2 linked regions of the Homo sapiens genome follow. The protein of the gene in region 2 interacts with the protein of the main gene of each other region in a pairwise test. Each region holds a gene or a part of one and is shown on either strand. Other genes may lie near its edges.

The links.
Region 1: the proteins of DHRS7 (region 2) and GLP1R interact in a protein complementation assay, tested with the Homo sapiens proteins (one large-scale study listed by BioGRID).

What each region holds. Positions count from the first base shown.
Region 1 is NC_000006.12:39,072,718-39,076,543, reverse strand, and holds part of GLP1R (glucagon-like peptide 1 receptor precursor), read right to left. Parts: intron 3,683-3,826; coding exon 3,529-3,682; intron 2,935-3,528; coding exon 2,775-2,934; intron 2,231-2,774; exon of another isoform or gene 2,163-2,230; intron 1-2,162.
Region 2 is NC_000014.9:60,145,820-60,148,535, reverse strand, and holds part of DHRS7 (dehydrogenase/reductase SDR family member 7 isoform 1 precursor), read left to right. Parts: intron 1-314; exon of another isoform or gene 315-2,716. UniProt on the Homo sapiens protein: NADPH-dependent oxidoreductase which catalyzes the reduction of a variety of compounds bearing carbonyl groups including steroids, retinoids and xenobiotics.

The sequences.
Region 1 (3,826 bases), on a different chromosome or scaffold from region 2:
CTACTAAGCAGGTTGTGTGCCCAGATCTACTGTGCCTGATGATGCAGGGAGAGATGGAGGAGGCAAAGGAGCCCCCAGCGGACCAGCATTCTTCATCAGCTCTCTCTCTCCTGGCCCATTGATTTCTACACAAATCGGACCTCTCAGCATCTACGGTGCTTTAGTAACAGGCCTTTATGAGACTGGACAAGGAATGGGATGGTCTCCAAAGGCCCCAGCACATGGTACAGGCCCTGCCACATAGAAGATGCCCAGTGAGAATGGAACGAATGATGGGTGAGTCAACACACCAATAAGGGAAGGAACATTGTCTGGGCAAGAGCATGCCGATTTCCTGAACCACGTACACATGCAGAAGCTTCCTTCTGGGTATCCCTCGCCCCCTGCTGTCCCTTCTCTCTGAGACCTCCTTCCAGGATCAGGGCACTCACCCATGTTATCAGCCAGACCTGGCAAGTTTCACTCATCGTCAGCATTTCCTTAACAAGGCCTTTTCAAAAAACACAGTCACGAAAGCCCTGCTGCATGCAAACATTACGCACTCCCTGCTGGCTTCATCTTTCTCCCATTTAGAAAACGAGCAAGACAGGTTGGAGAAAAAAGCTCAAATTAAGACACACACAACTGGCTCCAGGAAGTAATGATTCCCTCAACCATCATTTGCCTCCCTCTTGCACAGCCTCCATGTGGGTTTCTACAGGCCCCCAACTGCCTGGGGACTGCAGCAGAAGCTGCCATGCCCTTTGGGGGACCTCTCCAACTGTGTCAGAGTCCTAATTTTAATTCTTCCACTTGCACATGAAGCTGAAAGTTGTTTCCCAAGTATCCCAGCTTGGGCAAGGCCTCCTGGCATCACGTCTGAGCTCCTAGCAACCTGTGAATCTCTCTCCGTCTCCCCCACCCCAATCCTCAAGAAAAAGGTGTTCTGATTAGAGCAGGGTGTCCTCCGGGTCTTGCCCTTGTGCTCCCACAGACCCCGAGCCCTGAGCTAGGGTGTGAGGTGGTAGGAAAAGGACTTGGCACTCCCTCCCCCATCTCCCACTCAGAGACCTCTAGGGCAGTGTGTCCCCACCAAACTCCAGCCACCCCCGCTCCTCTGCACACATCACACACGTCCCTTGATTGTTCCTGCCCTCGGGTCGCCATGGTGACAGGCACTAACAGCGCTGATGCTATTTCCTAGAATGGACAGACACCGTCCCCCACCCTGAAGACAGCCTTCCCTGAGCTGCCCTCGATGGCCTCCCTCCTCCTGCTCTAGCAGGAGGAAGAAGCCTCGGGGAGAAAAGGCCAAGGAAGGGACTGGGTTCTGGGAGTGGAGGAGGCAGGTGAGGAGCAGGGATCTGTGAGCAGGAGCCAGGCCTACCTGCCCACCTGTGCAGAGGCCTGAGCCTGCTCAGGGGTGCTGCAGGGGACTGAAGGGATGCAGCCCAGGCAAGAGAACAGGGCATGATGGCCGCAGGCCCAGAGCCTGGGAGTCAGGAGGCCTGGGTTCCAGGGCCTGCTCTGCCTGTAAGGCCCTGCCAGCTCTGGGCCTTGGTGTCCTCAAGACACTGGTCACATTAAAATCTCTCAGGCTACTCTTCTCCTGGGGGGTGGGGGGAGCTGTATAGAGAAAAATGGCTGAGGAACACCAGTAAAAATAAATGAAGTGCAAGGACAGGGGATGGAGAGCTTGAGAGGGCAGAGAGCACAGAACCACGAGGACTGGTGGCCTGAGGCAGCTTCCTGAAGAGGCAGCGGACACCCTGGTGTGGGAAGGATGCTCCCTGAACATTCCTGCATGGAGAACAGCCTTGCAAAGGCTCAGGGACAGGACCATTGTCAGGGAAGAGGAGTCTGGATGTGACTGAGCTGGAAAGTCCCCGGAGGTCCGTGGCAGGGGCAGCCGTGGTCAGAGCAGCGTGAGGTGGGCGCATGAAGGAAGGAGGAGTGAATGAAGGAGTGGCAAGCAGGGCGGGGGATGGTGTGGAACAGGAAAACTCATGGATTCAATGGCAGATTAGGGAGGACAGAGGGCAGGGCCTATTCTCTGGGTACCGTGGGTCCCTCCAGAAAGGCCTGTTGCATGTTTTCCCAGGGGTGAAGGGGATCCCAGCCCCCTTCCCAACCCCAATGCTGCCCCTCATTACAATCCCACGTGGTGAGAGGCAGAAGCACAACCAGAAATGTTCCAGCAAAAAAAAAGACACAATGGTTCTTGGCAAACTTTTTTGGCTAGAACATTTCCAGCTGGGCTCCAGGCACATCCGCCGTCCACCCTTTCCTTGGCTGGCCTCTGGCCCCCCTGCCCCACTGTACTTGGCTCTCCTCTGAGCCCTCCTCTTCATCGTCATGTGACAGAGCACCAGCAGGCTCCCCCCAGCCAGCCCCCTACCCTCTTGATCCCCTCCCCACCTTGAGGCCCAGGACTCACCATTTCCCTCAGGCCCTCGGGCTGCCCGGGACTGGGTGTGAACTTATGTCCCCATGTGGTCTTAAGAGAACAGTGCCATGACCTCCAGTGGTGTGCATGATAGTGGTAGAGGGTGGTGTTTGGCCACATGCGGTGGAGGCTTCCATTAAGGGAGGAGAGTTATGCAGAGGAGGGGAGGACCATAACCCCCTACGGCATCTTAACAGCACCGGGGCAGAAGGTCCTGTGCCCAGGAAGAGGGTTACCCAGTGGGCCTTGCCCCTTGCTCAGCAGTGCGTTCCAAGTACCATGTTAGAAGAGGGGTCAAGGTCTCCCACCCCCGTGCCACAGGTCCAGGGTGGGTGATGGCGGTTCTTACCCCAGCCTATGCTCACGTAGAGCCTGAAGATCCATTGCTCAGATAAGACCGAGAAGGCCAGCAGTGTGTACAGGTACACGCCCTCCACCAAGAGCCAGTAGTAATTGGCCGCCACACAGTACTGCATGAGCAGAAACACCAGGCGGCAGCTCAGAGAGTCCTGGGGGTAGAGGAAGGGTGTCATGGGGACAACAGCTCTGCCCTCTGCCTCTCTTGATACCACTCCCCGTCCTGCTCCAGCCACTATCCTGCCATGGTTAATGCAGGAGGAGAGAGCTCACATCTCTGGCTAGGGCTAGTGCTAAGGACTTTATCTGCTTTAGCTCATTGAATCCTCACTATCCTGATTGGAAGAAAGTAATGTATCCCCCTGCAGGTGAGAAGTAAGTGACTTCTCACCTATTTCTCAGCCTCAGAGAAGTAAGTGACTTGCCTAAAAGTGTACAGATAGTAAGTGACAGAGCTGACATTCAAACTCAAGTGTGTCTCCAAAGACTACTCTTTTGTGTCAGACTGAGAATTCCCTAGGGCAGTGTCTCCTCCCTTAGATTGGGAGCTCCCTAAGGTAGACTGCCTCTCTCAGCAGACTGGAGGGTCCCAAGGCGAACTGCCTCTCCCATCAGACTGGGGGCTCCCGAAGGGCCAGGACTGTTCGGCTCTTGTCTTCTCCTGTCCCAGGCCTGTCTAGGGTGGCAGAGGCAGGCCTCCTCCAACCGCCCATCCCTCCTGAGGCGGTCCTGGATGCACCACACACCTGGTAGGAGAGGAGCCCATCCCACTGGTGCTGCTGGGCGGCTGTGCTATACATCCACTTCAGGGCTGCGTCCTTGATGAAGACGGACAATGCTCGCAGGATGAAGGATGCAAACAGGTTCAGGTGGATGTAGTTCCTGGTGCAGTGCAGGTGTCTGAGGGAGAAAGCAGGGCCTTTCCCTGGCAAGGCAGCCAACAGTTCTGCTCTACAACCCCAGGCTCTCAAGCTAACACACACATTAGGCATGTTTCCAGCCCTGGGACTGTGCGTGTGTCTTCTTCTATGAATACCCTTCTTC
Region 2 (2,716 bases):
CTGATTATCATTCTTTCAGCACTCATTCTTTATAGCAATTAGTCAGGGAATACTATTAACCATTTCTGAGAAATTGTGACCCTCAAAAGAATTTAATTTATAGACAGTACAGGAAATGTAATGAAGTAAACCAAAAATTATAGATGATTATGCAGCAAAAGATTATTGCTGAGGATGGTTTTTACTGTTAGCCTTTGATATACTTTGTTACCACCTTCTTTTAGAAATTAATCAATGGGGATTGACAGATAAAAAAAGAATTATAAAACAAGATCATACTATATATACCTGCAAAAATTTAAGCAATCCACTAATTGTTAGACATTTAATTTATTCCAACTCTTTGCAGGACAGTGAAAATGAATTAGGGGGTAAAAAGTTACAAACACAACAAAATGCTTAAGAGACATAAAAGGTTATCAGACTGGGTCATGACACACTAAAATGTCCAGAGTGTGAAAAATCAAAAAGGAGCTTTTCGTTTTCTACCAAGTAGTAATGTGGAACAGTTTGCTTTGGGCCAGATCCCTTATGAGTGTTTTGGTATTGTTGGGACTTGGTAGTGTGGGTAGAAGCTCTAAAGGTAGAGTTTCATCAAAGAGTATACCTGAGTTTTAAATATGGAGGACAGCTGATGCAGTAGCTTTGTGCCCAGTGATGGAAAGAGTTGAGAGGGACAGGCCACCTTACTACAGAGGAAGCACAGCCTCCTGGCAGAGCATGCAGCCTGGTGCTAGGCTACCTGGGTTCAAATCCCAGCTCTGCCCCATGCCCTTAAAGCAAGTTACTTCTCTATCACTCAGTCTCCCCATCTATTAATATAAGATGGAGATTAATGATGATAATAGTGCCCAGTCACAGGATTGTTATGGGAATTACATGAATTTAATATATGAAAAGCACTTAAAACACAACTTGGAGTGTTCTAAGTGTTAGCTATTGTGCTTTTTCCCCCTTCTCAGCTTGAGTTAGATATAGCAGGATATTCAGCTTCCTTAATGATCAAAGATTTTCTTTATAATTGACACATAAAAATTATATATATTTAAGGTATACATTGTGATGATCTAATATACACTGTAAAATGATTACCACAATCAAGCTAATTAATACATGTCACCCAGTTACCTTTTTTTGTGTGTGGTGAGAACACTTAAAATCTTCTTAGCAAATTTCAAATATGCTATACAGTATTATTAACTGTAGTCACCATGCGGTATATTAGATCCTTAGAATCTGTAAATTATAATAACATAAGTTATTTATCTTATAACTGAAAATATCTACCATTTTTTTTCTTTGAGACAGGGTCTCGCCCTGTCACCCAGGCTGGAGTCTGCAGTGGCGTGATCATGGCTCACTCCCATCTCTACCTCCCAGGCTCAAGCAATCCTCCCACCCCAGCCTCCTGAGTAGCTGAGACTATAGGCGCACACCACCATGCCTGGCTAGGTTTTGTAGTTTTTGTAGAGACGGGTTTTTGCCACGTTGCCCAGGCTAGTCTCAAACTCCTGGGCTCAGGCGATCCACCTACCTTGGCCTCCCAAAGTGTTGGGATCATAGGTGTGAGCCACTGTGCCTGGCCAAAATGTGTACCTTTTGACCAAGATCTCCCCATTTCCTCCATCTTCTGGCTCCTGGCAACCATCATTCTACTCTGCTTTTGAGTATGACTTTTTAGATTCCACAGAAGTGAAATCACATAGTACTTGTTTTTCTGTATCTTGCTTATATCACTTAGCATTAACGTCCATTCATTATCCATGTTTTCACAAATGCCAGGAGTTCCATTGTTTTATGGCTGAAAAATATTCCATTGTGGAATAATATTCCATATATATATATACACACACAGACACACACACACATTTTCTTTATCCATTCATTCACTAATGGACACTTAGGTTGTTTCCATATCTTGGCTATTATGAATAATGCTAAAATGAACATGGGAGTGTAGGTATCACTTCAAGGTACTGATTTCACTTCCTTTAGATTTATACCCTTAAGTGGAATTGCTGGATCAGATGGTAATTCTATTTTTAATTTTTTGAGGAATTTCCGTATTTTCCATAATGTCTGTACTGGTTCACATTCTCAATTTAAATAATAGGGCAGAGAAAGAATATATTATAGAAGTGATTTTTTTTTCAAAGGGGAAAGAGGGACCAGGGACTAGAGAATTTCAGTCCCACTGTAGTAGTACTTCCAGAAATGTCCATATGAAGGATATTTTGTTTTGTTTAGAGAATATCTAACTGTAAAATATAAACATCATTTAGCAAATCTCGCATTTTTTTTACATCTAGGTTTTTCTAAAAAAATGACAGCCTTTTTCTTCCTACCACCATCTTTGAAATATTGCTTATTATATAGTCTTACTACTTTGTCACTCTTTATTATAAGCTGGGCATTCTGTCATTTCTCAAAGCAATTTTTAGGACATAATACCTCATTCTTTATAGTCTGTACTCTTCCTCTCTCCCACTATTTTATATTTTATATATATGTATATATATAAATTTTCTTATTGATAAGCGTCTAAGTTAAGAAAATGCTAGCATAGCTTATTTCAAGCTAATAGTACTTGTTAACTAGAATTTGCTTCTTTAGTCTGTATGTCTGGAACTTTGTTTTTATGAATCTTTATTATTTTTAGGGATCAAGAACAGTGGCTACACTGAATTTTGTATTATCATTATTATTATTTTGTCTT